3 separate regions of the Homo sapiens genome follow, and regions 2 and 3 are each linked to region 1. Evidence: fine-mapped expression QTL. A gene starts in region 1. Each other region holds a variant in brackets. All regions are shown on one strand. Distances are between the middles of the regions. Region 1 holds the start of CHRD (chordin). Region 2 has its middle 15 kb from the start of LINC01839. Region 3 overlaps LINC01839 (long intergenic non-protein coding RNA 1839).

Region 1 (9,168 bases):
GGAGAATGAATAATAAAAAGCCAGTCAGAGTCATGCCCAGGTCTATCTGACTCCCAAGCCCATGCCAGCTCTTTTTTTTTTTTTTTTTTTTTTTTTTTTTGAGACGGATTTTTGCTCTTTCTGTCCAGGCTGGAGTGCAATGGCGCCATCTCGGCTCACTGCAACCTCCACCTCCCAGGTTCAAGCGATTCTCCTGCCTCAGCCTCTGGAGTAGCTGGGATTATAGGCATGTGCCACCACGCCCAGCTAATTTTGTATTTTTAGTAGAGATGGGGTTTCTCCATGTTGGTCAGGCTAGTCTTGAGCTTCCTACCTCAGGTGATCCACCCACCTGGCCTCCCAAAGTGCTGGGATTACAGGCTTGAGCCACTGCACCCAGCCTACAAATCACTGTTTAATTTATTTTATTTATGCCAGCTCTTCTATACCAGGCTGCCTGCTCTCTGCTTTCCCCAACACAGGCCCACACAGCCCTTCAAGCTAAAAAACAGAAATGTTCCAAGCTGCCGCCTACCATCACATCCTTACCTCTGAGCCATAGAATCCCTTCAGCAGCCGCCGAGGCCCTGGCGTTCCAGGAGGCCCAAGGAGGTGGGCAGTGACAGTGCCTTGTTCTGAGCCACCAAGCCCAGCCAGCAGCACTTCATAGTGCAGGTGACAGTGGGTATCCAAGGAAAGCCAGGCGTGCCCTGCTGCTTGGCTCTTCACAGGGGGTAGCACCAGGGCTCCTGCTAGGGGCACGGGCAGCGCTGGGTCCAGACAGAGGAGAGATGACAGGTGAGAAGGTGGCCTAGGGCAAGCCCTCAAACCCAGCATTCCCAGCTCCCCAGCACACATTCCACGAGCTGGAAGACACTGTCCATAGGTCCAGGGCCTGGAGAGCAGCAAGTTTTAGACCCTTGAACCTCAGCAACAGGAAGAGTCCGCCAGCAGGGCCACCCTATATGTCCCCACCTTCAGATGGCAACCGGAGCTTAGGCACAAAGAAAGACACACCAGGCTCCGGCTGTCTGCCACCATCCCTCAAATGTTCTAGGAAACCAAAGGGCAGACAGACCCCTAAGGACACTCACTGTCATGGCGGGCGCTATGCCCACAGTAGGGCAGGGCAGCCACGTGCCCCCGAAGCTCTCCGTCTGGGAAGTCCTTGGTGCCCACGTTCAGGAAGAGCTCATTCTGCAGCAGCATATGAGCCCCTCGGGCACCCAGCCCAGGGCAGATACCCACGGCCTGGGGGCAGGGGAGGATAGGCCTTCTCAGCTCTCACACGAGTCCAAGGTTCTGAAGTCTTGGACCATTTTGTGCCCCCACTCCACCCACACACACTTCCACACACCAGAAACACAGGATAAGGACCTGGCAGGCCCAGTTTCAAGGCCCTCCCCTGCTGCTTCCTAGCTATGTAACAACCTTCAAGAGTAACTTAACTTCTCCAAGTCTTCACTTCCTCATCTCTCAAATGGATACTGTGAAAGCCAAAAACTATGTAAGGCCACCAATGCAGCACCTAGCACATGGAAAGGCCCTATAAGTAGCAACCATTGCCATTACATTTACTAATATGTGGCCTGTGGCACTGTTCTCCAGGTCCAATGCTCCCATTTGACTGTGAGCTTGCTAAGCACAGGGGCCACATATGATTTGCTTTGTACTCTAGTCCCTAGTCTGGGGCTCACTAAAAATGTCAAATCATGCCGGGCACGGTGGCTCTCGCCTGTAATCCCAGCACTTTGGGAGGCCGAAGTGGGCGGACCATGAGGTCAAGAGATCAAGACCATCCTGGCCAACACGGTGAAACCCCGTCTCTACTAAAAATACAGAAATTAGCTGGGTGTGGTGGTGCACACCTGTGGTCCCAGCTACTTGGGAGGCTGAGGCAGGAGAATCGCTTGAACCCAGGAGGCAGAGGTTGCAGTAAGCCAAGATCACACCACTGCACTCCAGCCTGGTGACAGAGCCAGACTCCATCTCAAAAAAAAAAAAAAAAAAAAGTCAAATGAATAAATGAATGAGTGGGAGAACCCATGAGTGAGTGGATGATAATGAACATCCCTGCTCATCCAACCTGGCTTCCCACAGCCCATGCATTGGGCCCTGGGGTCCAGCTCCACCTGGAGCCCTCACCGTGTGTCCTCCTGGCTGGAGTCCAGCCATGTGGCACAGGACAGTGCGCTGATCCCTCCGCTGAGGCTTGGTCTCCAGTGTCATGGCCACCACCTCACTGCTTGTCCCTACCACTTGCACCTGATGGGCAGGGATGGAGGAGGGCAAAGTGGAGAGGCAGTAAAGGCCTGGGGCCTGCTGCCCACGCCACCCCTCCCCCACCTTCTGCAGCCCCTGGCTCTTACCTGATAGATCAGGGAGCCATTTCCTAGCAGCGTGAGGCTGGCTGAGCCGGCAGCACCCGTCTGGACTGGGATCAGGGCATCAGCCCCACAAAGGACACTTTGCAGGACTACGGAGGGGCAAGACAGGTGAGGCTAGGTTTACCCCATGGCCGCTTACACCCCCAGTCCACAGGATCTCTCCCACACCCACCCTGGCACTTGTCTGTGTCTCTCAGTTGTGCATGCCCGGCGCACCAGGCCCCCCCCCCGCCTCACCGTCGCAGCTCTTCCTGGCAGCAATGTGTCCACTGATGCGCAGCCCTGGCCTGCCTGCCCACTCCAGGGCCATCTGCAGCTCCCCCAGCACCAGCCAGTCCATCTCCTGGACTGTCAGGTTGGGCAGCACCTCAGCAAAGCCTGGTTCCTGGGGACAGAGCAGGGTGTGATGGGCAATAGCAAGAGGCCAAGACAGGTGGCAGCGAGAGCCAGATCCCCACTCACCTGGGCTGAGACATTGGCCTGAAGTTCTCGCAGTAGCTGCCCCTGGTGTAGAATCTGGAGCCTCAAGGGAACCTGGGTTAGTCCTGCAAGGCCGCACATGTGGGCCTTTCTGAGACAGGTGCTCTCCCTAACCTTCTCACGTGTTTTGCCCCCATCCCACTTACCCCCACTCCTGGGTTCCAGCAGCCCTCGGAAGAGCAGCAAAAAATGCAAGGAGTCCTCTGTGTCACTGAGAGTGAGCAGGGTGATGCCCCCTACGCCCTGCTGTGGGGGGCCTTCTAGAGTCAGGATGGCACTGAAGGTCTCTGGGGAAGGGACGATGATGAGAGCCCGTCAGAAACCCTCCCCCCCTTTCCTGGGTGATAGAGAAGACTCAGAACTTCACGCCCGGGGCTCTTTGCTCCCTACCTGCAGCCAGGGCCCGGTGCCGGATGAGAGGCCCCCAGACCTCCCCTGAAGGGTGAGTGAGTGTCACAAGTGCCACATGCAGCTGTTCTGCCCTAAGGAGCCGCAGAGACAACCGAGGCACTGCCCGCCACACCCCACAGACCTGGAGCAGAGAGACAAGAAGGCCCTACGCTCAGACACTGTGCAGGCTAGGCCAATTAGGATGCCCAGGCAGGGCTTATGAAAAAGGAACATGGAAAGGAACCTCCAGGGTGCCCTAGGAAGCTTAAGAAAGAACGCTGGAGCCAGATGCTTGGGTTCCAATCCTGGCTGCACCACTTACTAGCTGTGTGACCTTGAACAAATCACATTATCCTACTGAGCCTCAGTTCCCCCTTCTGTAAAATGGGCATCATAATGTCAGTGCCTTCCTCCCACTGGGCTGTGGTGAGGACCACGGGAGGCAATGCAGAGCATGCTCTCGGCACAGTGCCCAGACTGGGCAAGTGCTCATAAATGGCATCATCTCACCAGGCCATCTTGGGTGGGGGCTGCAGGGTGCTCAAACAGGACACTGCCATTGGAGTCTGAGAAGCGGATCCTGGTAGGGCGGTCCAGCCTGGGAATGAGAGGTCGGGTGAGGCCGGACTGAGCCAAAAGCAGCCCCTCCCAGCTCTCCCAGTTTCCCTCCCGGGCCCCGGCAGCTGACCCCTCCTTGCTCCTTCCCCTTTCTCACCGCCTGTAGGAGATAGAGAAGCGGAGGCTAGAGCGCAGCAGCGAGACTCGGGCTCGTGCCACCGCCTGCGACCTCGGCCCTGTCAGCAGCGCCACGAAGTCTGGGACGGGAGGAAGATGGCCTGAGCACTGTCAAACGCCGCTTTGGTGGCCCAGCCTCAACCACAACCCCGCTGTTCGCCAGCCCCCTACCCGTGTGGCCGTCACCACGGGCCCGCTCCTCAGCGCCTGGCTCCCCGCGGTCGCTATAACTGCGATGCTCCGGGTCCCGCGGATACTCGAAGGACAGGCCGCTCGGCTGCCGCTCCGAACTGCTGCGCTCTGCGGGCGGGGGGGTAAGAACACGGGCTTCAGCTGGCCATGGGAAAGGCCAGTCCGACGCCCCATCCAAGTGGCCCGGGACCTAGTATCGTGGCCCTGCCTCCCTCCCCGCAGGGCGGAGCAAGACTTACCCTGGGGGCAGGTCTGGCAGCAGTGTCCCGGCAGCTGGCGCGGCTGCCCACAGGCCGGGGTTGGGCACTCTGGTTTGATGTTCTTGCAGCTGACCCTGCCAGGGCCCCTGGTACGGCGACCCCACTGAGGCTGCTCCCGGAAAAGGCGGGAAACCCAAGTGAGTGCAAGATGCCAACTGATGAGACCCCCCCAGGCAAGGATGTCCCGCAGAGTCAGCCAGCTCTGCCACTTACAAGCTGCGTGACCCTAGACAAGCTACTTCATCTCTCTGGGCCTCAAGGTCCCTGTCTGGAAAATGGGGATAATAATACTCTCTATCTAGCAAGGCTGCCATGAGAGTTAGATGAGCAGGGAACGAAACGGAGTTGGCACAGAGCCTCACACAGAGTGGGCGATCAGTAACAGCACCTAAGAATTGGAGGGGCTGATTCCCCTTCCTCCACCAGAAAAATATCCCCAACATCTGCCGACTGGGCTCCTTCTCAGCAGCTCCGAGTCCACTCCGACGCCCGCGCGACCCGGCGCTCCCCACCCGCCAGGGCCCGGGCCGGCCGCGGGGTGCACTCACCGCCTCGCAGGCGCACAGCACGCAGCGCATCACCCCGAATGGCTCCCCTAGGTCCGGGTGCCACGTCTCGTCCAAGGCATAGACCTTCCCGCCGAAGGTGCAGCCTGCGGGGACGGGCTTGGCTGGAGGCCGCTGCCCAGCTCGCGCCGTGTGCCGCCCCGGGGGCTGCCCGCGGGTCCCGGGTCCCAGGCACCGCGCCCTTCTGCCCCCGCCCACCCTCCGGGCCGCCCGCCGCGCCGAGCCACCTGCGCCCCGCGCCCCCTCCGGGCTGGCGCTGACTCGCCCCGAGCCCGACTCCCCGCCCGCGCCTCCCCCGGGCGCCCACCTACCTGCCGCTCCCCGAACGGGCAGCGGCTCCTTCTCAGAACGGATGGGCAGCACGGGGGGCTCTGGGCCGGCGCCGCGGGCCGGCCGGGAGCCGAGCAGCAGCAGCCCGAGGAGCAGCAGCGGGGCCGGCGGGGCCGGGAGGCTCGGCATGACGCGAACGGGACAGCTGGGGAGGAGGGAGGGAGGAGGGCGCGGGAGCGGGCGGAGGGAGGGAGGCGGGAGTGCGGAGGGCGGAGGGCCGGGCCGGGGGCGGTGCGGCGGGAGGGGGCCGGGGCCGGGGCCGGGGCCGGGGCAGTGCCGCGAGGGGCTCGTCGGGCGGCCGCAGAGTCGGCGCCGGGCCGGGCGGGGCGGGAGGAGCGGCCGGGAGGAGCGCGGGCGGGCGGGCGCTGACCCGGGCCGTACGCGGCTCTACTGCCCCGGGCGCCGGCTCCGGCCCGTTTTATGCCCCGCGCCCGACGCCCCGGCCGGGGGCCTCCTCCTCAGCAAACGGGGCGGCGGCGGCAGCTCGGCGAGGGGCCGGGCTGAGCCCGGGGGGTCCGACCCAGCAGCAGCGGCCCGGATCGCGGGTGGGGGAGGGGAGGGAGGGGCTGGGACCGGGCAGGGGAGGAGGGAGGGGCGGGAGGGGAAGGGGGAGCGGGGGAGGGGGAGGGGAGGGACCAGGGGGCGCGAAGAGGGGGAGGAGAGGCGGGCCCGGAGCCCCCCGCTGCTGGCGGCCACAGGGCGGCTGGACCAGGAGGTCGGTGTCCAGCCCAGGAAGGGAGCCTCAGGCTAGGGAGGGGCAGAGGCTAGGCCTGAGGCCTGGACCGCTCTGTGAGCGAGGACCCGGTTCCGCCCGAAGGATGAAGACTTGTCTTTAAAGATGACAACGTACAGGAAAGGTCCATCAGCCGATCTCCCCCTGCCTGGGCCCACAGCGCCCCCCAAACCCTCACCACCCTCTCTCACTGCCTAGCCTGCCTCCCTACCTTCTCTCTGAGGTCGCTCCTCATTCTTGTGTTACCCAGGACAGGGACCTAGCCAGAAACCGGCAGCATTCCCCCTTCTGTGGAGTGACAGTATCTCCCTCTCATTGTAACTTATCCTCAGGCGCATTCGACAGTCCCCTCTTGCTTTCTCACCCCCTTCCTTCACCCAAGGGACCCTCTGCCTCTCCAGCCCACTCCCAGCCTCCTTTCTCTTGGTTCCCTGGTCATGCCTGCCTCCCTGTCTCCTGTCTCTCCCTCCCACACACACCCACTATCCTCCCAGCTATCCCAGCACCCTCCTTCCTAATCTTGGGAGACATCTCGTCTGGCTGGACGGGAAAATTCCAGGATCTAGGCCACACTTCTCAGCAGACATGCCCATCCTTGGGGAGGAGGAACAGGAGAGAGCCTGAGGAAGTTCTGGGGGACAGGGGGATGATGGGATCAAGGTCAGGCCAGGAAGCCCCTGAGGACAGAGACTGTGGGGAGACTGGGACTGGGAAGAAAGCAAAGGAGCTAGAGCCAGGGCCAAAGGAAAAGGGGGGCCAGCAGGGAGGTATTTGCGGGGGAGGTCCAGCAGCTGTCTTTCCTAAGACAGGGACACATGGGCCTGGTTATTCCTCTTGTCACATGTGGAACGGTAGGAGATGGAAGACGGAGACAGAACAAGCAAAGGAGGGCCCTGGGCACAGAGGTCTGTGTGTGTAGCCATCTAAGCCACTGGACCCCAGCAGACGAGCACCTAAGCTCAGGCTTAACCCAGTGCACGTGTGCGCACATACATGTGCCCCGCACCTGACAGTCCACTCAACCCGTCCAAACCCTTTCCCCATAACACCAACCCATAACAGGAGATTTCTCTCATGTGGGCAATATCCGTGTTCCCACTTCGAAAGGGGGAATGACAAGATAGGACTCCCTAGGGGATTACAGAAAGAAAAGCAGGAAAGCAAGCATCCTGTTGGATTTCAGCAGCAGGTATGATGTCCAGGGAAAAGAAATTTGGATAGCCAGGGAGTGAAAACCCCACCAATCTTAAACAAGACCTCTGTGCTTCTTCCCCAGCAACACAAATGTCCTGCCAGATTCCTCCTGGAAAAAAACTTCTGCTCCTGTCCCCCTCCAGGTCCCAGGTTGCCCATGTCCAGGAAAAGATGGATCCCCCTATCCAAATCTTCTCCGTGGTGTGTGTGGGTGGAGGAGTGGACCCTGGTCCAGGCAGGGGCTCCAGGGAAGAGAAGGCGTCACTTCCGGGGGCCTTCACCAGTGTCTGGTGGCTCCCTTCTCTGATTGGGCAGAAGTGGCCCAGGCAGGCGTATGACCTGCTGCTGTGGAGGGGCTGTGCCCCACCGCCACATGTCTTCCTACCCATCTGCTCCCCAGAGGGCTGCCTGCTGTGCACTTGGGTCCTGGAGCCCTTCTCCACCCGGTGAGTGGCCAGCAGGGTGTGGGGTTATGTGAGGGTAGAAAGGACAGCAAAGAGAAATGGGCTCCCAGCTGGGGGAGGGGCAGGCAAACTGGAACCTACAGGCACTGACCTTTGTCGAGAAGAGTGTAGCCTTCCCAGAATGGGAGGAGCAGGGCAGAGCAGGGGTAGGGGGTGGGGTGCTGGTTTCTGAGGGACTGATCACTTACTTGGTGGAATACAGCACAGCCCTGGCTGGCCCTAAGGAAAGGGGACATGAGCCCAGGGAGAAAATAAGAGAGGGAGCTGCACTTAGGGCTTAGCAAACACAGTAGTAAGATGGACACAGCCCCAATCCCCATTCTTAGCTGGTCATTCCTCGTTAGCTTAAGGTTCTGAATCTGGTGCTGGGGAAGCTGGGCCAGGCAAGCCAGGGCGCAAGGAGAGGGTAATGGGAGGAGGGCCCACTCATGTTGACAGACCTACAGGAAATCCCAATATTGAATCAGGTGCAAGCCTCTTTGCACAACTTGTGAAAGGAGGAGGAAGCCATGTGGGGGGTCCTGTGAAGGAACCGGAAGGGGTTCTGCCAAGGGGGCAGGGAGGCAGGTGTGAGCTATGAGACAGATATGTTAGTGGGCGCCTAAGACAAGGTAAGCCCCTAAGGTGGGCATCACCCAGCAGGTGCCCGTTCCTGGGCAGCTGGTCTCAGGAAGGAAGTCCCAGAACTGTTAGCCCATCTCTTGGCCTCAGATAATGGAGTATTTCAGGACTTGGAGTCCAGAGAAAAGCTCCAGTGGCTTTATGTGTGGGGGTAGATAGGGAAAGAATAGAGGTTAATTTCTCCCATACCGCCTTTTAATCCTGACCTCTAGTGGTCCCAGTTACAGCTTTGTGCAGTTCCCCTCCCCAGCCCCACTCCCCACCGCAGAAGTTACCCCTCAACATATTGCGCCCGTTTGCCAGTTCCTCACCCAGGCCCTGCATCCCATTTTCCACTCTCTTCTCCAGGCTGAAGCCACAATACTTTCCTTCTCTATCCCCATCCCAGATTTTCTCTGACCTAACAACCAAGGTTGCTCAGAATTTAAGGCTAATTAAGATATGTGTGTATACATATCATGTCCTGCTGCTCTCAGCAGGGGTAGGTGGCACCAAATCCATGTCCGATTCACTGAGGAGTCCTGACAAAAAGGAGACACCATATGCTTTCTTGCTTTCTTTCTTTCTTTCTTTCTTTCTTTTTTTTTTTTGAGACGGAGTTTCACTCTTATTGCCCAGGCTGGAGTGCAATGGTGCGATCTCGGCTCACCACAACCTCCGCCTCCCAGGTACAAGCGATTCTCCTGTCTCAGCCTCCCAAGTAGCTTGGATTACAGGCATGAACCACCACACCCTGCTAGTTTTTTTGTATTTCGTAGAGCCGGGGTTTCACCATGTTAGTGAGGCTGGTGGCGAACTCCTGACCTCAGGTGATCCACCCGCCTTGGACTCCCAAAG
Region 2 (10,244 bases), 79 kb before region 1:
GACCGAGGCTATGTATGGGCCCAACACCATGAATTCCCACTTAACAAGGTCAGTCCAGCTCTTGCTGCCTCTGCATGTCCAATCTGCCAGCACAGAGATCCATGCTAAGCCTGTGGTATGGCACTACTTCTTAAAGAGACCAACCAGCCACATGGTGGCAAGTTGTCTTCACTGGAACCCTTCTATCCTAGAAGGTCAGCAGTTTTTTCTCACGAGAATAGACATCTATTCTGGGTATAAGTTTGCCTTTCTTTCCCATAAGGTCTCAACCAGCACTGCTATCCAAAGGCTTATGGAATGCCTGATTCACAGGCATGTCATCCCACACAACAGAGCATCTGTTATGCAAATGTACCCAGGATTCGTATTAACCAGATATGGCCAAATATGCAGACGTGGAAATGACTGTAATGAAGAAGGAAGTCTATCCTCACAGATCCTGGAAACAGGAGGCACAGCACACCATGCACGGCCACGTGAAGAAGGACTGGGATTGATCAGGAGGCAAAAGAGAGGTGAGGGCAGAGCGCAGCCCGGAGCCTCTATGGGGGTTCTCATGGAGAGTAGCAGACAAGGCAGGGTAGGTATGCTGAGTCCAGGATTGGAGAGATGAAATCGTTTTGGCAGGCCCTGGGCTATAAAGAGTGATCCCTGCCGGGCGCGGTGGCTCACGCCTGTAATCCCAGCACTTTGGGAGGCCGAGGCGGGCGGATCACGAGGTCAGGAGATCGAAACCATCCTGGCTAACACGGTGAAACCCTGTCTCTACTAAAAATACAAAAAATTAGCTGGGCGTGGTGGCGGACGCCTGTAGTCCCAGCTACTCGGGAGGCTGAGGCAGGAGAATGACGTGAACCCGGGAGGCGGAGCTTGCAGTGAGCTGAGATCGCATCACTGCACTCCAGCCTGGGCAAAAGAGGAAGACGCTGTCTGAAAAAAAAAAAAAAAAAAAGAGTGATCCCCAATTGTTTGGTACACGGCCCTGGGGTGATTTAGGGCGGGGGAATATTGGCTTGATATATGAGAATTTGATAAAGGACACGGTTGGGGATGTGGACTTGGATTGGTTGGTTTTCCTATCAAGGACGTGCTTGCAGGGAGGTTGTTTGCTATTTCTAGGAGTTAGCTAGCCCTGAGAGAGGCAGGATCAAGATCCCAAATGCCAGAACACCAAGAATACAAAAGATGAGGACGTGTAGTTAATGCAGCATCTGACCAGGGAATTCCCTTTACAGCAAAGTAAGGCCATGATCATGAGATCACTGGTGGTCTCACCTGCCACACCATCAGAAGCTGCCGGCATGCTAGCTCTTTGGAATGACTTGTTGGTGGCACAGTTGGAGTGCTGGCTTGGAGGCACCATCCTCCAGGGCACAGAATGCTAACTGGATCAGAAACCTTTATATGTTGCTACAACCTCAGTAGGAAGAACAGATGGACCTAGGAACAAAGGAGTTAAAAAGCAGGAGTGTAGACTGTGAGTTTCTTAAGAAAAAAAGTAAGAGTGGCTCATTTGCCATCACTCCCAATGACCCCCTGGGTGAACTCGTGCTTCCCATCCCTGCACCTCTGGGCTCCACAAAGTCAGAGGTCTTGGTACCCAAATGGGGCTCACTTATCACTACGACGAACAGGGGCCAGACTGTTGATTATGTGAAGATAAGATGAGGACCAGCATCTCTGCAGCCTTCAGATTCTTAAGTATGGCATTCATTTCCACCTTTCCCCTCAGAATGTGATAGATACTGTTTTTGATATACTGTTTTTTTACTGTTTTGTGTTTTTATTCTGGCTGGTCAGTGGCAGTTTCAGAGGATTGTGTCTGGGCTTTACCGCTCTCATGGCACTTAACCTATAGGCAAAGGTTCCAATGTGGAGGTTACCCCAACTACCAAGTTTGTCAATCTCTGTTCCACAGGCCATCAGATGAGTCTATGAACATCATAACCCCCCTGTAAGCAGAGTTTTTGGCCAGGACTCCATATGCTCTAAACTAACAGAGGCACCATGATAACACTTCAGGCCTCTGGACAGCAACATCAACTCAGACTCTGTGTCCAACTGTCCTTGAAATATCTGAATATTATCTTGGCTGGGCGTGGTGACACATGCCTGTAATCCCAGGACTTAGGTAGGCAGAGGTAGGTGGATCACTTGAGGTCAGGAGTTCAAGACCACCCTGGCCAACATGGTGAAACCCCATCTCTAATAAAAATACAAAAATTAGCCAGGTGTGGTGGTGCTCACCTGTAATCCCAGCTACTCCAGAGGCTGAGGTGGGAGAATCACTTGAACCCAGGAGATGGAGGTTGCAGTAAGCCAAGATCGCGCCACTGCACTCCAGCCTGGGCAACACAGTAAGACGTTGTCTAAAAAAAAAAAAAAAAAAAATCTGAGTATTACCCTCTTACCCAGGACATAGCACTATGGTAAATGTAAGGTCCTTTTGGGGAAGGACTGCAGATATCATTAAAGTGCATACTTGCCATGATATTGCAGGATTCTCCTATGGTTCCAACCACCTCTGCAGCCAATAGGTCCTGAGTCTGAAAACTGGCTGAGGTTCAGACACTGGGCAAGGGATCATGACTTTATTGGGGCAACTACCCTCAGCCTCCTGCTTATTAATTTTTGGTCTTTTTTGAATACAGTTGTCCCTTGGTATTTGTGCAGTATTGGTTACAGGACCCCTATGGATGCCAAAATCCATGGATGCTCAAGTCCCTGATAATAAAATGGCACAGTATTGGCCAGGCATGGTGGCTCATGCCTGTAATCCCAGCACTTTGGGAGGTCGAGGTGGGTGGATCTCGAGGTCAGGAGTTAGAGACCAGCCTGGCCAACATGGTGAAACCCCGTCTCTACTAAAAATACAAAAATTAGCTGGGCGTGGTGGTGGGCGCCTGTAATCCCAGTTACTTGGGAGGCTGAGGCGGGAGAATCACTGGAACCTGGGAGGCGGAGGTTGCAGTGAGCTGACATCACGCCACTACACTCTAGCCTGGGCGACAGAGTGAGACTCTGTTTCAAAAAAAGAAAAAAAAAAAGGCACGGTATTTGCACACACCTACACACATCCTCCTGAATAAATAATCCCGAGTACTTATAATACCTAATATAATGTAAATGCTATGTAAATAGTAGTTATACTGTATTTTTAAGGGAATAATGACAAGAACAAAAAATGTCTGTACATGTTCGGTGCAGATGAATTTTTGTTTTCAATCTTTTGTGGCAACAGGGTCTCACCATGTTGCCCAGGCTGATCTTGAATGCCTGGTCTCCAGCAATCCTCCTGCCTCGGCCTCCCAAAGTGCTGGGATTACAGGTGTGAGCTACTGCACTCAGCCACACAAAATTTAAAATATATATATATTTTCCACCCACAATTGGTTGAATCCACAGATGCAGAATCTATGGATACAGAGGGCCAACTGTACTTCTATACATAACAGTTCCCTTTGGGCTGCTTGTCTACTTTTCCACTGGAGACACTGTGTTCTCTTAGCCATCTCCATAACTGTCTGAACATCAAACCTCTGTAATTATCACTCTGACCTTCTCTGCTGCTACAGTTGTTCTGACCCCTGTCTTCTGACCGCTAAGTGCTGCGCCCTGCTCTCTATTGCCCCAGCCCTATCCTCTCCAGTACAATCAGCAAACCAAGTTCTGTGCCTGCCTCTCCCAGCATCAGTCCTGGCCTGCAGGGGAGGGCCAACACTGAACAACCTAGTCATGACCGTGGCAAATGGTGTGTTCCCCTGTCTCCCCATAGAATCCTATTCTCTTTTGCCTAACATACTGCCTCCATTCCAAATGCCCACCCACTTTCCCAAGGCTTTTGATCCCTTTCTCTGCCCTCTTCCCCGGCAATTCAGATATTTCAACCTCACTCAGCTTGACCTGCCACTTTGTCCAGGCTTCAATGAACCACCCTAGCAGTTATCTTGCACCCTCCCTGGGGTCCTTACCAGGGGGTTAAATCCTGTGCCTTATAGCTCCCTTCTCCAGTCCCATGAAGCTCTCAGAATCCAGGCCCACAAGTACTCCCACAGCCTCTGCTGGCACCTGTTGACTAGATCTTACAGCTCCTTTGGAATATAGCACCTTTCCTCCTGTATCCAACTAGCATATCCCCAGGCAAACTACGCAACGATTTAACCCAGTAGTAAAGTCTAGCTACCCACTGGCAATGAGGGCCACACCCCAGGAGTTAAGTCTAGCAGCCAGAGGATGAGGTGAAGGCAGCTGCCTAGGGACACCTGTTGCCTTGTAGGGGAAAGACCTCTGCCTTGTCAGGCCGGGTGCCATGGCTCAGGCCTGTAATCCCAGTGCTTTGGGAGGCCAAGGAGGGCGGATCACAAGCTCAAGAGATCAAGACCATCCTGACCAACATGGTGAAACCCTGTATTAAAAATACAAAAATTAGCTGGACGTGGTGGCACGTGCCTGTAGTCCCAGCTACTGAGGAAGACTGAGGCAGGAGAATCGCTTGAACCCAGGAGGCGGAGGTTGCAGTGAGCCGAGATCACACCACTGCACTCCAGCCAGGCGACAGAGTGAGACTCCATCTCAAAAAAAAAAAAAAAAAAAAAAAGACCTCTGCATTGTCCCCCAACACAGAGGAGGAGGGAGTACTCTCAAGTGTAGGGGATGAGCCACCTCTGCAGGTTCTGAGAGCCAGAGAAGCTCAGGGCTTCAGAATGTTCAGGGGCACCCACCTCGAGGTCCCATCCCATGTGTCGGGGTCCCAGAGATCTGAATCGCTAGAGCATTCAGCCATCTTTGGAGTGCAGCCACTCTATTAACTCATGGCTTCATCTTCAGTTCCTTTTCTTCACCGAGCAGAGGACATGAAGGATTCTTCATCAGCTGCCAAAGAAATCCTCTGGCTTTCACACTTAGTTTTCAATTGTTTGTTAATTGCCCTCAGCTTTTCATTATGTGTCTGTAGATCACCAATGCAATTGTTCATTTCCATGTATCTATCTATAATTCATATATTCTATATTCATATATATTATACATCATATAATATCCATATTGTATAGAATGTTTTTCTCCCCTGTGTACCTTTCAAATGCCTGACTTATCACATAAGCCAGTTCATTCCCCTTCACTGGTACATTCTCCCACGTCAGCATCAGTGAAATGTTTAACAATAGGGCCACCAACATGTGCTGGGGACTTTCCATGCTCACTTAACTCCTGGGGCGTGGCCTCATTGCCAGTTGGTGGTGGAGTGATCCAGCCCCCAAACCCCGTCTTACCAACTACTTTCTTGGACCACTATTGAAAACCCATAGGCCCGGCACGGTGGGTCACACCTGTAATCCCAGCACTATGAGAGGCCAAGGCGGGTGGATCACGAGGTCAGGAGTTCGGGACCAGCCTGGCCAGCATGGTGAAACCCCATCTCTACTAAAAATACAAAAATTAGCTGGGCATGGTGGCATGCACCTGTAATCCCAGCTACTCGGGAGGCTGAGGCAGGAGAATTGCTTGAACCCTGGAGGTGGAGGTTGTGGTGAGCCGAGATTGAACTCCAGCCTGGGCAATAGAGTGAAACTCCATCCTAAAAAAAAAAAAAGAGCCAGGCGCAGTGGTTCACACCTGTAATCCCAGCACTTTGGGAGGCTGAGGCAGATGGATCACCTGAGGTCAGAGTTCGAGATCAGCCTGGCCAACGTGGTGAAACCCCGTCTCTACTAAAAATACAAAAATTAGCCAGGCATGGTGGTGCATGCTTGTAATTCCAGCTACTCAGGAGGCTGAGGCAGGAGAATCGCTTGAACCTGGGAGGCAGAGGTTGCAGTAAGCGGAGATCGCACCACCGCACTCCAGTCTGGGCAACAAAAGTGAAACTCCGTCTCAACAAAAAAAAGGAAAAAAACAAACAAACAAAAAACAAAATGGATGCTGAGATGGAGTTAGGAATTCAAAACTTTCACTGGGGAGTAGGACTTGTGAAAAGAAAGAGGCGGAAGCCAGAGTGGGCAGAGAGAGCCCTCTGATTCGGAGGCAGACTAGCTAAGGTCTCTGACTGCCCAGTGGGAAGCTCCGGAGCAGATGGTTCATTGGGAGTCCAGCATTGGGAGGAAATGAC[T/C]AGGCCATTGTAACACTGCCTTAGTCATCACTGGGGAGGCCACCCTGCAAAGGATATGATCTCAACTGGAAAGCAGAGGTTGACCCTAAAGGAGTCTATAGCTGGAGCTATCAGCTCATCACGTGCCAGGCAGCTGGGCAGTGAGTCCTTTCTCAAAGAGGTATCTAAGGTGCATCTCTGCCACATTGACAATGACAAGACAATATGAGAACAGTTTCTGTGCAAGCCTGTGCACAGTTGAACCATGTTTCTCTGGTTAGTAAAGAGGTGTTGGCTGGAAGTTTACCAGGAAGATAAGGTGAGAGGGGACTTTGCAGGAAAAGTGGACCAAATATTCAAAGACCAAGGCAATGCAAAGCATGGGTATGTTCTAGAAAAATCCAAAGAATCCAGTGGAGCAGAAACATAAATGTTAGCAAATGGGAGAATATGGACATGAATGATAAAGGAGACGAGTAACACAGGACCTTTTCTGCCTGGCCACAGAAGTTCAGATTCTGGGCCGGGCACGGTGGCTCATGCCTGTAATCCCAGCACTTTGGGAGGCTGAGGCAGGTGGATCACCTGAGGTCAGCAGTTCGAGACCAGCCTGACCAATATGGAGAAACCCCATCTCTACTAAAAAAATACAAAAATTAGCCAGGTGTGGTGGTGCACGCCTATAATCCCAGGTACTCAGGAGGCTGAGGCAGGAGAATCGCTGGAACCTGGGAGGCAGAGGTTGCGGTGAGCCAAGATTGCACCATTGCACTCCAGCCTGGGCAACAAGAGCAAGATTCTGTCTCAAAAAAAAAGAAGTTCAGATTCCACCTGCAGCTGACACAGGGAACTTGAAGAATGTTCATCAGGGAAATGACATGATGAGATGTGAATATTAACAAGACCTCTCTATGGAAGAGAAAAGCCAGGAGATGAAGTGAGGAAGAGTCAAGATGATGCTGCAATGGTCCAGGAGAGAACCAAGTTGGGGTGGTGGAATGGAGAGGAAAGTCCAAATAACCCCATAGCAGGTAGAACTGGGTGAACACAGTGAGCAATTGACCATGAGGGGTTGATATGGTTTGGCTGTGTCCCCACCCAAATCTCATCTTCTTTTTATTTTTTTTTTTGAGATGGAGTCTTGCTCCATCACCCAGGCTGGAGTGAGTGGCACAATCTTGGCTCACTGCAACATCTGCCTCCCAGGTTCAAATGATTCTCATGCCTCAGCCTCCTGAGTAGCTGGGATTACAGGCACGCACCACCATGCCTAGCTAATTTTTGTATTTTTAGTAGAGATAGCATTGGCCAGGCCGGTCTCGAACTCCTGACCTCAGGTGATCCACCTGCCTCAGCCTCCCAAAGTGCTGGGATTACAGGCTGTGAGCCACTGCGCTGGCCCCAAATCTCATCTTGAATTGTAGCTTCCACAATTCTTGAATGTTGTGGGAGGGACCCGGTAGGAGGTAATTGAATCATGGGGACAGGTCTTTCCCATGCTGTTCTTGTGATAGTGAATAAGTCTCATGAAATCCGATGGTTTTATAAGGGGGAGTTTCCCTGCACAAGCTCTCTCTTTGCCTGCTGCCATCCATGTAAGATGTGACTTGCTCCTCCTTGCCTTCCGCCATGATTGTGAGGCCTCCCCAGCCATGTGGAACTGTGAGTCCATTAAACCTCTTTTCTGTATAAATTACCCAGTCTCAGGTATGTCTTTATTAGCAGCATGAAAACAAACTAATACAGGAGTGAAGGAAGGGAGGAGCCCAGGATGATGCCCTAGTTTCTGACTTGAGCATCTGGCTGGCTGTTCACCTGGTCCCAGAAGAGACCTACACACATGCTTTCTCCCCTCCAATTTCCCCTTCCCCTTGACCTGTGATCTATTCCTCCACCCCAGGTCCCTTTCAACATTAGACATCCCTCACCCCTATTCACCTGATGCACACGGCAAGGGAGGGCACAGAAATAGGCTCCCAATAGAGGCTGCCAGGCATGGCCCTGGAGACAGCTCACTTGTTACAGTCCCTGCTGCTATGGTTTGAATGTTAATCCCCTCCTAAACTCATGTTGAAACTTAATCTCCAAATGACAGTGTTGAGAGGTGGGGCCTTTAAGAAGTGACTGGGTCATGAGGCTCTGCCCTTATGACTGGATTAATCCATTTGTGGATGAATGGATTCATGGGTTATCATGGGAGTGGGGCTGGTGGCCTTATAAGAAGAGGAAGAGACACCTGAGCTAGCACACTCAGCCCCTCACCATGTGATGCCCTGTGCCACCTCAGGACTCTGCAAAGAGTCCCCACCAACAAGAAGGCTCTCGCCAGATCCGGCTCCTTGATCTTGGACTTCTCAGTCTTCATAACTGTAAGAAATAAATTCCTTTTTAAAATAAATTACCCAGTTTCAAGTATTCTGTTATACGTAACAGAAATTAGACGAGATAACAGTCCAGGCCATCTCTCACCCCTGAGCTTGAGCTCGCAACCCCATAGAGATGGGTAGTCCAACAGTTAAGGCCCTATCCAAGTTGCCCAGACCTGCCAGTCCAGCGCCATCCACTCATCGTGCACCTTGCTTCAGCCTCACTGAACCATATTCTCCTCTTGTGATTTCCCACACCAGGCCCTCCTCTTGCAATGTCTGGACCTTCACAGTTCAATTCAAACGCCCCCTCCTCTATGAGGTCTGCTGTGACTCCCCAGCTGGGAATATCTTCCTCCTTGATCTCCACTTGCTTTGCATTTTGTTCTTATTAATCCTGCTCTGTATTGTGAGGCTTTTACGTGCTCATGGGTTGTCTTTACTAGATGTCAAGAACTCAAAGCCAGTGTCTGTTCCAGGCAGGTCCCTGCACGGAGTGGGGGTGAGGGAGTGCACAGAGAAGGAGCAAGAAGGTAGAGCCAAGACCCAGTGAGTGGGCCGGGGACTGGGGCATGGTGTAGGAAGACAGGTCTTGCCTCTCAGGACAGGAGGAGCTCAGAGAAAACGTTGCCTCTACTACTGCTGCTCCAAATGCAGACCTTATGGTTTCTAGGACCTTCATATGGACCAAACTGGGCTGTTCCTTGGGGTGAGGCTCTCCAGAGTTCCAGAAGACTCTGCTGGCCTCCAGGCCAGCCAATTCTCCCTCTCATTATTAACTGCTGCAACCATGTGCTAAGAGGGGATCTGATGAAATCCTCCCAGCTGTTTCCTGACGACCCCTGACGGTGCCCAACCTGGACTGAGCCCTTTTCTGGGACAAGGATCCCCAAGGATGTGCCTGGGTGTCACCCCTAGCAGCCCACCAAGGTTTGGTTCACTCCCTCTGGGTGTGAGCCAGGCGCCAGATGTCCCCACACTAGAGGACACCAGGTGGTTGGCATCATGGCAGGTCACTTCTAAAATGGGATCAGGAATTTTTCAGAAGAAAAGGTTGGCAGAAAAAAAAAAACCAGATTGTGACTGAAACACAGTCACCAGCTGATGTAGCATATTTGGAGCTATGTTCTTCTTGCAGATGGGGAAGGATACAGAAACTCATGAAGGGTAGGCATGGGAAACCTTTCCCCAGAATTAGCAGAGAATAGCCCAGGTGAGGTCCCCGCTAACCAATGATTTGGGCAGGTTTGTGCTTCACTTGCTCATCTATAAAAGAGGGATCAAAGGGAGTGTTGTGAAGAATTAAATGAGTTAGTAGATATGTAAAGTGCTTAGCACAGTGCCTTGGCACATAGGAGTGCTATCATGATTTGTATTAGTTTTTCTAGGATAATTAGAATTGCAGCAACATGTGTGTATGTTGACAAATCTAATTAAAGGCCCAGAAAGGTTTTAAGCACTTTCACTGTCGGATGGAAAGGGTAAGATAGTTACATTAACTCCAGCTTGGTGCAAACCATGAACAATTCAGCAGTAATTGAGAGGGTCAGCAGGAAAGGTCATTGAGGACCCTGGATGTTTGCGTTCCTTGCAATCTGCTCAAAATGATAGGTTTTTATATTTAGCGCAAAAATTATATGCTTTGTAATTTTAATGAAAAGTCATTTGTAATTTAAATGGAAACTATATTTGATTAGGTCATGAGTTGTGAGAAATAAATTAAATAAGAAAGAAAAAGGATTTTAAAAATCATGTCTGGTATCAACCCAACTACATAACCTTAAATCCCCTAT
Region 3 (10,244 bases), 120 kb before region 1:
GGGCAATACCTTTGCACCTGACCAGCAACCCACTGCCAGAGCAGCCACAAGGACTGATTCTTGGGCCGGTGAGATTCCAGAGTCTCCCTCAGCGCAGGTGCTGAAGGGAAACTCTGCAAGACCCTAAGAGCCTCTGTGATCAGGTGGGGGCTAAGAGGCGTCAGAATGTGGATGCTCCTGTGAATCAGACTGGACTTGTAGTTCCAGGCCGCAGAGTCCTGGCATGCGGGCACCATGGTCATAATGATGATCTTCATTGCCATGGCACACACCATTCCCATGTATCAGCTTTATGCCTGGGCAGAGCAGACGGGTGTGACTGAAGGCACAAGGGCAAAATGCCATTATTGAGGCACCTCCTGCTGCCCCGGGAAGCACTTACCTGAGTGGTGAGTCCACCTGTCTACTCATTGGACCGCCGTTATGCTCCAGGCAGGATAGAAGAGGCAGTGGTTCCCTGCCTGTGACGAGTCCCTGGGCTCTTCTCCTCAGGGCAAGTGGTCCTGCCCTGCTGGAATTGTGTCTAACCAAGGGTAGAGGTATCAGCAGCAGGTACCTGTGGAAGAGACAGAGAAAGCGGTTGTCTCCTTAATATCATCCTTGCTAAGTTCTTTCATCCTCCAAGGACAAAACAGATGGTGAGGAAGAACAGGGAGGACCTTGAGGAACTGGTCTTACTTGGAATGCTGGGGCAGCCGGTCACCGGGTTTGGGATTCTTCCTGTGGAGCGTGGAGCGGCTGTGATCCACCAAGGCAACTAGCGGTGCACGGAGCTGGGCAGGGTGGCCAAGGCCTTGGCCGTTGATGTAGGTGTTCGAGGCACGGATGGCCTGTTGATCTATGTGCAGCTGCTGCGGCTGTGTGTGTTGATGCGTCCCACCCACCAAAGGCCCCAAGCTTCCTCTCCACCTTCTGCTGGCACCGTCTGCAGCCTCTGACAGCATAGATACTCTTCCTGGGGTGGGGGCTTGGGGGGCAGGTGCCCCAGGATGCAGTGATAGAGTTCCAGAGGCTCAGGGCTGGGGTGGGCTGCAGGATGGGGCTGTTCAGGCTGAGCTGTCCTTCTGTCCTTAGCCTGCACCTTTCTTTTTGGCCCCATCATAGACCTTTAAGCGTGCCCCCAGATGGACAGGCTGAAGTCCCCTTGACCCACAGTTTGGCTTTCTATCCCTGCAGCCATGTCCTCATTTTCTGGGGCTGGTCAGCTCCTGGTATGGCTTCAGGACCTGTCCACAAGTCTGCCACCTCACTGTGTGGAGGTGGCTTCAGACCTCTCTGGAAAGTCAAAAATGGAGACGGAGACACTCTTCTGACAGGTTTGGGTGGTCCAAAGGATGAGTTGCTGTGGAGAGGTGGAGGGAGTAAGGGCGGGCCAGTGGGGAGCGGGCACCTGGGCGAGTCTTCCCAGTTTTCACTGCTGTGATTGCTATGAGGATGTGTATGAAGCAGGGTTTGTGACAGGCCAAATCTGCACAGGGCCCACCATCCACAAAGTGCTTGTATGCCTGCATTCTCTTGGTCCTTTTTGAAAACATTGCTAACAGGTCAAAACCCAAAAGCGACCACAGCCATGTCTGACTTCAGGGGTGCAGATGCTGGGTTGGTAGAAGACCCTTCTGTCCCTCTCTGCAGAGTTGAGTAACCTGCCTGCACATGAGGTGGTTGGAGACTTCTTATCTTTTCTTTAGTTTTTAACATAAACTTTATTATTGAAGCATAACATAAATACAGAGAAGAGCACAAATCACGAGTTCAGTGGCTTTTCCAAAATCACATGTGTAACTAGCATCTAATCAAGAAATTGAACTCTACTAGAACACCAGAAGCCCCCTAATGCTTCCACTCAGTCACTCCCCCACCATGCTAACCACTCACCTGACTTCTAATACCTTAGCTTCCTTTCACCAGTTGGGGACTTTATAGGAATAGAATCATCTGATATTACTGAAGGACTTTTAAGAACAGAAATATTGAATACCCAATATTGAGAACTTTGCTTTGGGATGATATCATCATCCTCATACACATAATAAAGCCTGCTGAGCGAACAAATGTCTTTTGCATGTGTTTTTGTTTTGCTTTGTTTTGTTTTGTTTTCCAGATATTAGAGGTGACAATCCGTGGAAAGGAGCCGAGTCTCCCATCTGGGTCAGTGCAGAAACGGAGCAAAGGGAGCTTCTGCAGAATGTGTTTGCAAGTAAGGCACCGCTTGAGCAGATTCAGACACTCCAAGCCAGACGGGAGGGGGAACATTGGGCAGAGCATTGGACTTCCCCTCAGAAGGTAGGACAGGGGCTGAGTCAAATTCATATACTTTCCACTAACAATGGAATTATAAACTAGATAAGCACATTTCACTGGAAAAGATACAAAGAACTAGTCATCCCCATGGACATATGGTCGTCCCTATTTGACATTAACTGGCTGGTTATTCTTGCATGATTTATACCTTCATGAGTCAGATTATGTGATTGAATCAAACGAAGCATGCGTAAGTCTGGAAAAAGAGAGGAAGGGGAGGAGGCTCCAGCCATAGATATCAGAAGAGACCAGAGAATAAATAAAACCCCTTCTGGTATGAGATTGCCATTCTACTCTCTATTGTGAAAAGTTGCTACTGGATGCAGAGACGCTTACAGGGGGCATCGAGAGGGTTTCCAGAACCAGTCTTGGGCAGCTGACAGGCCAAATCTTAAAAGAAAAGTGAACTCCTTTGCCCTCCAATAGCAGCAAAAGCTGAAACCAGAAGGGCACTCAGCTGAGCCTCCCGGGGCAGCAGGGTGGGAAGAAGGAGGACCCAACTCATCAAGAGGACCCTCCCTTTCAACAGTCATCACAGGTAGTATAAGGCAGCTCTGGACAGGATTTCACAGTAGAATCACCACAGGAGCTTACATACTTCACTTTGTTTAGTGTGGTGAAATATATGTGACATAAAACTGACCACTTTTACCACTATTAGGTATACAGTTCATTGGCATTAAATACATCACCATTGCTGTGCAATCATCATCATCGTCCGTCTTCAGAACTCTTCCATCTTCCCAGACTGAAACTCTGTACATTAGGCCACAATTCACTCCCTTCTACTCAGCCCCCTGGCAACCACCAATCTATTTTCTTCCTCTATGAATTTGACTACTCTGGGTACCCTATATAAATGGAATCATACAGTATTTTTCCTTTAGTGTCTGCAGGGGAAGTTTTAAAAGCATGAATGCCCAAGCCCAACCCCAAGCTAATTAAATCAGAATTTCTGGGGGGAAAGCCCAAGTAATTGCTGTTATTTTTAAAAGCTCACCGGTGATTCTAATGGGCACCCATGGGTCAGAAGATCTAAATCAGATTTGCACTCAAGAACCCCTCCCCCATGACAAACACACCTCAGCACCTGCTGGCTGATTCCCCAGATTCCTTTAGCTGTGGGTAAAGCTAAGGGTTCTCCTTCTTCAACTGGAGATGAGAGGCTTAAAATGACGTATTCGGGTATCACAGCGACTGAAACTCATGTGCTAAAGATTAATCTACCAGTCAAGAGGGGTAAGTGATTATTATGAGACACTGTCTCCTTCTGGAAACTGGGAGGGCTCAGAGTAGCAGATGGTAAGTGACTGCTGATTTGGGAGATGGGGAGAGACAGACACACTGGGACCCATGGCCGCTTTTTAGGGAGCAGTGATAAAGGTTAGTCCTATTTACCTTTAGTTACCTTGTGGACACAATAGGATTTGGGAGGAATTTACGACCAGCACATCTGTGGATTTGCCTTGTTCATTGGAATGCGGCCACTCGGACATATGGTTCCCATCAACTGTATTTTTGCATGATTCTTGAATTTCGCCCCCCCCCCAACTTTTTTTCATTTAACTGCACTGACTTCATTACAAAGGAACTTCACTTACATGGGTTCTAATTGAGGCATGACCAGTGCCTTACTCAAGCAAGAGCTCCTTCTGTTCCTTCTTTCTGCAGAATTAGAAATATACAGAGAATGATCAGATAGATAGATGATAGGCAGATAGATAGGTAGGTAGATAAACAGATAAAGAGACAGGCAAATGTATACAAAGTGACAAAATGATAAGAAAGATCCACACCAAATCATGATATTGGTTCTCCCAGTGGAGGAAGGGAGGTATGGGAATGGGATCAGAAGAATTTGAATGTTTTATTTACTTAGTTTTTTAAAACCCTGGAAACAAGCAGGACAAAATGTTAACACTTGTTCTCTCTGAGTTGGCATTTGTTGTGTTATATTCACTCTTTTTACTCGTCTTTGTGCTTTTTGGTATCTTTAACAGTTGTCAGTATTATATATATAGGTATATAAATAATCATACACATAAAGACACATGTATAAAGAAATACTTTGGCCAGGCACTGTGGCTCATGCCTGTAATCTCAGCACTTTGGAAGGCTGAGGCAGACAGATTGTTTTAGCCCAGGAGTTTGAGACCAGCCTGAGCAACATGGTGAAGCCCCATCTGTACAAAATACACAAAAATTTGTAAGGTGTGATGGCACACGCCTGTGGTCCCAGCTACTCCAGACGCTGAGGTGGGAGGATCGCTTGAGTGCAGGAGGTCGAGGCTGCAGTAAGCCATGATTGGGCCACTGCATTCCAGCCTGGGTGACAAAGTAAGATCCTGTCTCAAAAAAAAAAAAAAAAAAAAGTAAAAAGAAAAGAAATACTTTGATGACTGAGAAGAGCTCTTATAAAGAGTTTCATATTAATAATTTTACCATAAAAATAAAATTAATAAAGTTTCAGAACATTTGAAAAATACAAAAAAGCGTAGACAGAAATTGCCACATTTTGGTGTCTTCATATCCTACTTACTTCTCCATGCATTAAATAATTGTGTCATTGATTTCAAGTTTTCACATAGTCCCTAATTACAAAGGTAATACTTATTCATTGCAAAATGCAGAAAAAGATGGATAAGGAAAGATACATTACCCCATTGCCTTATTACCTGGAGTGCCCCACTATGGTTCATCATGGCAAAAAACAAAATCAGATTCTGGCTAGGAAGACAATTACTGAATGTTATGATTTGAATGTGTCCCCTCCAAAATTCAGCTTTTGCCAGTGTGATAGTATTAAGAGATGGGGCCTTTAAGAGGTGACTAGTCCGTGATACTCCTCATGAATGGGATTAAGAATCCTTATAAAGGTGCTTGACAGAAAAACCTGGTTCTCTCTTGCACTTCTGCTTTTCCACCATGTGGGGACATGAGGTTTCTTCCCTTTTGTCCTTCCACCTTCTGCCTGCATCACATGGTAGTGCCTTGATCTTGGACTTCCCAGCCC[G/A]AAGAACTCTAAGAAATAAATTTCTGTTCTTTATAAATTACCCAGTCTCAGGCATTCTGTTATAGCAGCACAAAACAGACCAAAACACTGAAAATATTAAAAATAACATATTCCATCAACAGAGGTTATCAGGGTCTTGGCTTTTATTGAGCTCCTCCTTTGTTTTTTATGTGATGGAGTGACTCACACATGCAGTCGGATATGGTATGGCTGGCCTCTAATGCTAATTTAATCTTGGATTAAATGTTACTTTCTTAGACATCGTCTCTGATGGTTCAATCTGAAAGAGCTACTCGCTATTTCAATAGCCTTAATTTAAGTATTTTTTGGCAGGGAGGAGGGAGTTTGCCATTATTATTTATCATTCTCTATCATTTTTTCTTTTTTAATTGTGCATTTATTTGTTTCTTCCCTGTCTTTTTCATTATTGTATCCTCGGGGCCTAGAAAAATGTCTGGAATTTGGAAGTTTTATTATTGAATAAATAAATAAATCAAATATCCTTTAGTGATCATGCCTACTTAGGATTATGGAAGTGTCTTTCTTTAACTACCACTGGACCCAAGCCTAAGAAAACAACCTGGTGAAGCACCTGGATTTCGGCCACACCCCTCTGCCTCCTCTGGATTTCGGCCACACCTCTCTACCTCCTCTGGATTTCAGCCACACCTCTCTACCTCCTCTGGATTTTGGCCACACCTCTCTACCTCCTCTGGATTTCAGCCACACCTCTCTACGTCCTCTGGATTTCAGCCACACCTCTCTACCTCCTCTGGATTTCATCCACGCCTCTCTACCTCCTCTGGATTTCAGTCACGCCTCTCTACCTCCTCTGGATTTCAGCCACACCTCTCTACCTCCTCTGGATTTCATCCACGCCTCTCTACCTCCTCTGGATTTCAGCCACACCCCTCTGTCTCCTCTGGATTTTGGCCACACCTATCTACCTCCTCTGGATTTCATCCACGCCTCTCTACCTCCTCTGGATTTCAGCCACACCCCTCTGTCTCCTCTGGATTTCAGCCACACCTCTCTACCTCCTCTGGATTTCATCCACGCCTCTCTACCTCCTCTGGATTTCAGCCACACCCCTCTGTCTCCTCTGGATTTCAGCCACACCTATCTACCTCCTCTGGATTTCAGCCACACCTCTCTACCTCCTCTGTAGCAGCAATTCTATGTCTCTGTGTTAATGAAAAGTCCTTGCCGCAGCCAGTGGAGAAGAGAGAGAGAAGGGCAGAGAGAGTATTTAAGGAAATAGCTGAAAACATTCCAAATTTGATGAAAGACATGAACATAAATATCTAAGAAGTTCAACAAGTAGGATGAACTTAGAGATCTACATTAAGGTACATCATCATTAAACCATCAAAAGACAAAGACAAAGAGCGACTCTTGAAAGCAGCAAGAGGGAAGCCACTTGTCATATACAAGGGATCCTCAATAAGATTACTAGCAGATTTCTCATCAGAAAGTTTGGAGACCGGAAGGCAGGGGGCTGATATATTCAAAGTGCTAAAAGAAAAAGGAAAGCCTGTCAACCAAGAATGCTACAGCCCCCAATTTTTTTGCCTTTCATGTTTATGAGGCATCTATAGTTCCCTTGGCACGAATAGCCACTTTCTGTCCTTTGTCCATTTTTCTCCTGAGGTGTTTATTTATTTTTTATTTTTTATTATTTTTTAAATGGAGTCTTGCTCTGTCACCTAGGCTGTAGTGCAGTGGCATGATCTCAGCTCACTGCAACTTCTGCCTCCTGGGTTCAAGCAATTCTCCTGCCTCAGCCTCCCAAGTAGCTGAGATAATAGGCACGCACCACCATGCCTGGCTAATTTTTGTATTTTTAGTAGAGACAAGATTTGACCATGTTGGCCATGCTAGTCTCGAATACCTGACCTAGCGGTCTGCCCTCCTTGGCCTCCCAAAGTGCTGGTGTTACAGGTGTGAGCCACGGCACCTGGCCATATTTTTAACTTTTTTCTTTGTAAGTGCTTTCTATGTTGTAAGGAGACTAACACTTTCTTACATATGGGGCACAATTTTATTTTGTTTTTCTTTTGAAAATTTTAAACTGTAATTTTAATCAGTACATGTTTAATTTTTATTAATAAATAACTTACAATTTTTAATATAATTAAATATGTTACTGTTTTTCTTTATGACTCTTGCTTTGGTATCATTCAAAGAAATACTTTAAAAACTTCAGGATCATAGAAATTTAGCAAGGACTGCTAGTAATAACAATAGGAGGGCCGGGCGCAGTGGCTCACGCCTGTAATCCCAACACTTTGGGAGGCCGAGGTGGGGGGATCAAGAGGTCAGGAGGTCGAGACCATCCTGGCTAACACGGTGAAACCCCGTCTCTACTAAAAATACAAAAATTAGCTGGGCACGGTGGCGGGCGTCTGTAGTCCCAGCTACTCAGGAGGCTGAGGCAGGAGAATGGTGTGAACCCAAGAAGCGGAGCTTGCAGTGAGCCAAGATCGTGCCACTGCACTCCAGCCTGGGTGACAGAGCCAGACTCCATCTCAAAAAAAAAAAAAAAAAGCTAAATTATTCATAATCACCATCATTATTCACTATGTATCAGACACTTTATATATAATCCCATTTAATTCTCATAACAAATCTATGAAGTAATTATTATTCCCATTCTACACATCAGGAAGCTGAGACTCAAGAAGACCAAGTAAATTCCCCACAGTCATGATTACGGGGTTGGAAGTGAATGTCAGTAGTTTTGCTGTGCATAAACTTCAGGCTTTGTTGGATGAGCAGACCCGGGTCCACGTCCTGGCTCTGCTGTGCCAGCTGGCAGATGGACCACTTTGTGCATGTCTCTGCACCGCTCTGGACCTTCATTTCACTTGTAAAATTTCACCTAATAACACCTCCCTCATAGAGTTGTTAAATGAGAGAAAAGTATGTACTGTGCCAAGCACTGAGAGAAAAGTCAGCCTGAGAGTCAGCCCTACTCCTCTTTGCTGGAGCTCCTTCACTCTCTTTGTTTCCTCTCTGCAGGGGTAGGGCGCTGTGGCAGAGGGGCTGGTGAAAGAAACGCTGAATCAGCATCTGTGAAACTGACATCTGCAGTGAGGTGCACAGATTGAAATGCTGGGCCTAGCCGATTTAAGTAAGGAGCAGAGCAAGGTGGCTGCAGCGGTCCCACCCTGGAGGACCCTCTTAAAGGCGTCCCACCCTGGGGTGTGGCTCAGGTTTCTGCAACAAGACCTATTCCTTTCTGTGTGTGGGAGGCAGGGGTGGGGCTCGTCAGCATGATCTCTCCGTGGTTCAGAGGCAGCCACTCCTGCCTGTGAGGATGCCGGTCATGTGTGTGTGAGGTTGCTGCTCATCTACCAGCTCTCGCCCCGTTGGCCCCAACACACACACTAAAGCCATGGGCACCCTCGAGGGACACCTGCTGCCAGCAATGTTCTTCCTTCTCTACTCACTCTACTATATGGTGCTGGTGTCTCTGGCCCTGCTACAGGAACAGAGGCTCCTCAAACTCCCTCTGCCCTCCAGGGAGAAGTGAGGACACAGGTGGTGGTAGCTGGTGCCACTAGAAGGTGTGGTGAAGGTGGTCATCACCCTGGCTGGCATCTTACCCAAGTTATTCTACCCGTCTGGAGTAAATCGGCTGATGGTGGTAGACTGGGAGGATCCGCGGTGGCCATTCGTGTTCAAGGACAGCTGGCAGCACATCACCATGTACGAGTTCTTTATGCTCACTGGCGTGGTGGACATTGTAAGCCAGTCGTGTCAGGAATGGTAGAATATGAAGCTAGAGCAAGCAGTCAAGGCCTTGGGCTCCTATGTGCTGGCACTACTGATGGCAGCCCACATTGAGAACAAGGGCACCCTGGAGATCCGTGTGCGTGAGCTCTTCAGCGTGCCCCCCTTCCTGGTCTCCCTGGTGCTCACCATCAAGGTCTGGGTCCCTGACCAGCCCCAGCTCTGGGTGCTCAAGACCTGGGTGGGGCTGGGGCTCAGCAACTGGATGCTGCAGCTGTGTGTGCTGATGTTTGCGCCTCCCTCCGGACAGCCCTGCAGGTGGAGAACCCCATGGACCTTGCCTTCCTCACTCGCTTCTTCTCCTGGCACCTGGGCTTGGGGGCTGCCGTGCTGGCTGCTGTCTATGGCCTCTGCAGCCTCTGGCACCGTCACTGCTCCTCCTGGACAGCGTTACCAGGGGCCAGGTACTAGCCGTGCCTCACCAATTCCAGTGGTGAAGAGCTTGAGAAGCTCAGGGCAGAGGCTGTGCTGCTGGATGGAGGCGTCTAGGTACAGAAACTGTCTTTGTTCTATGCCTTTTGTAATGAGAGTTTCAAGGGTGCCCACAGCACGCATAGCATGGAAATGCCTTAGAATTCACAGGCTAGCTTCTATCTCGGGAGCCATCTTTCTCGTTCCCAAATAAACCTGCCAGCCCCTGGGGTAACTTCTCATCCATCATTCTCTTCTCTCCAGGTCTGTCTCTTTTCTCTCTCATTATTCTGGCCAAGCACATACATGAAATGAGAACAGGAGTGCTGCTTTTTTCTGGCAGTTTTCAGGATCCAAGAGGAGGAAATGAATTGAGGAAGTAGACAGAGAGGAAAGAGCGCCCGTAGACACCATATTTCTTAGATGGGGCAGGACTACGGTATGCACGGGTATGCCTGCAAATGAAGTCTCTCAATGTGTGAAAGACAGGGGGTCCGTTTTTCCATAATGGTGAAGTCTTCTGTTTTCTCAATTTCTCTGTTTTTTATTCACTCTCAGTATGGCAGTATGAGGAATTTTCATGTTTGTTTTTTGTTTGTTTTCGAGATGGAGTCTCACTCTGTCACCCAGGCTGGAGTGCAGTGACTTGGTCTCGGCTCACTGCAACCTCCGTCTCCTAGGTTCAAGCAATTCTCCTGCCTCAGCCTCCTGAGTAGCTGGGACT

Evidence for each region. PIP is the estimated chance that this variant, and not a neighbour inherited with it, causes the effect.
Region 2: its variant is fine-mapped to the expression of CHRD in fibroblasts (GTEx, PIP above 0.99).
Region 3: its variant is fine-mapped to the expression of CHRD in cerebellum (GTEx, PIP above 0.99). The same link has a PIP of 0.9 or more in cerebellar hemisphere.

What each region holds. Positions count from the first base shown.
Region 1 is chr3:184,376,599-184,385,766 of GRCh38, reverse strand. It overlaps CHRD (chordin), which reads right to left and starts at 5,713. Exons shown (of 23, transcript NM_003741.4): 1 at 5,301-5,713; 2 at 4,972-5,075; 3 at 4,403-4,532; 4 at 4,143-4,271; 5 at 3,952-4,051; 6 at 3,747-3,834; 7 at 3,237-3,378; 8 at 2,993-3,133; 9 at 2,829-2,911; 10 at 2,604-2,751; 11 at 2,349-2,455; 12 at 2,125-2,244; 13 at 1,074-1,230; 14 at 529-749. The coding sequence starts at 5,448. THPO (thrombopoietin) reads left to right here and starts at 7,560. Exons shown (of 6, transcript NM_000460.4): 1 at 7,560-7,692.
Region 2 is chr3:184,455,443-184,465,686 of GRCh38, reverse strand. No RefSeq gene overlaps it. Among named protein-coding and RNA genes, the nearest start is that of LINC01839, 15 kb to the left of the region's middle. The variant T/C (reference allele first, on the strand shown) is at 6,107.
Region 3 is chr3:184,498,838-184,509,081 of GRCh38, reverse strand. LINC01839 (long intergenic non-protein coding RNA 1839) reads right to left here. Exons shown (of 8, transcript XR_924788.3): 3 at 5,195-5,322; 4 at 3,903-4,646; 5 at 679-1,647; 6 at 383-556. It also overlaps the pseudogene TEDDM3P. Among named protein-coding and RNA genes, the nearest start is that of LINC01839, 28 kb to the right of the region's middle. The variant G/A (reference allele first, on the strand shown) is at 5,315.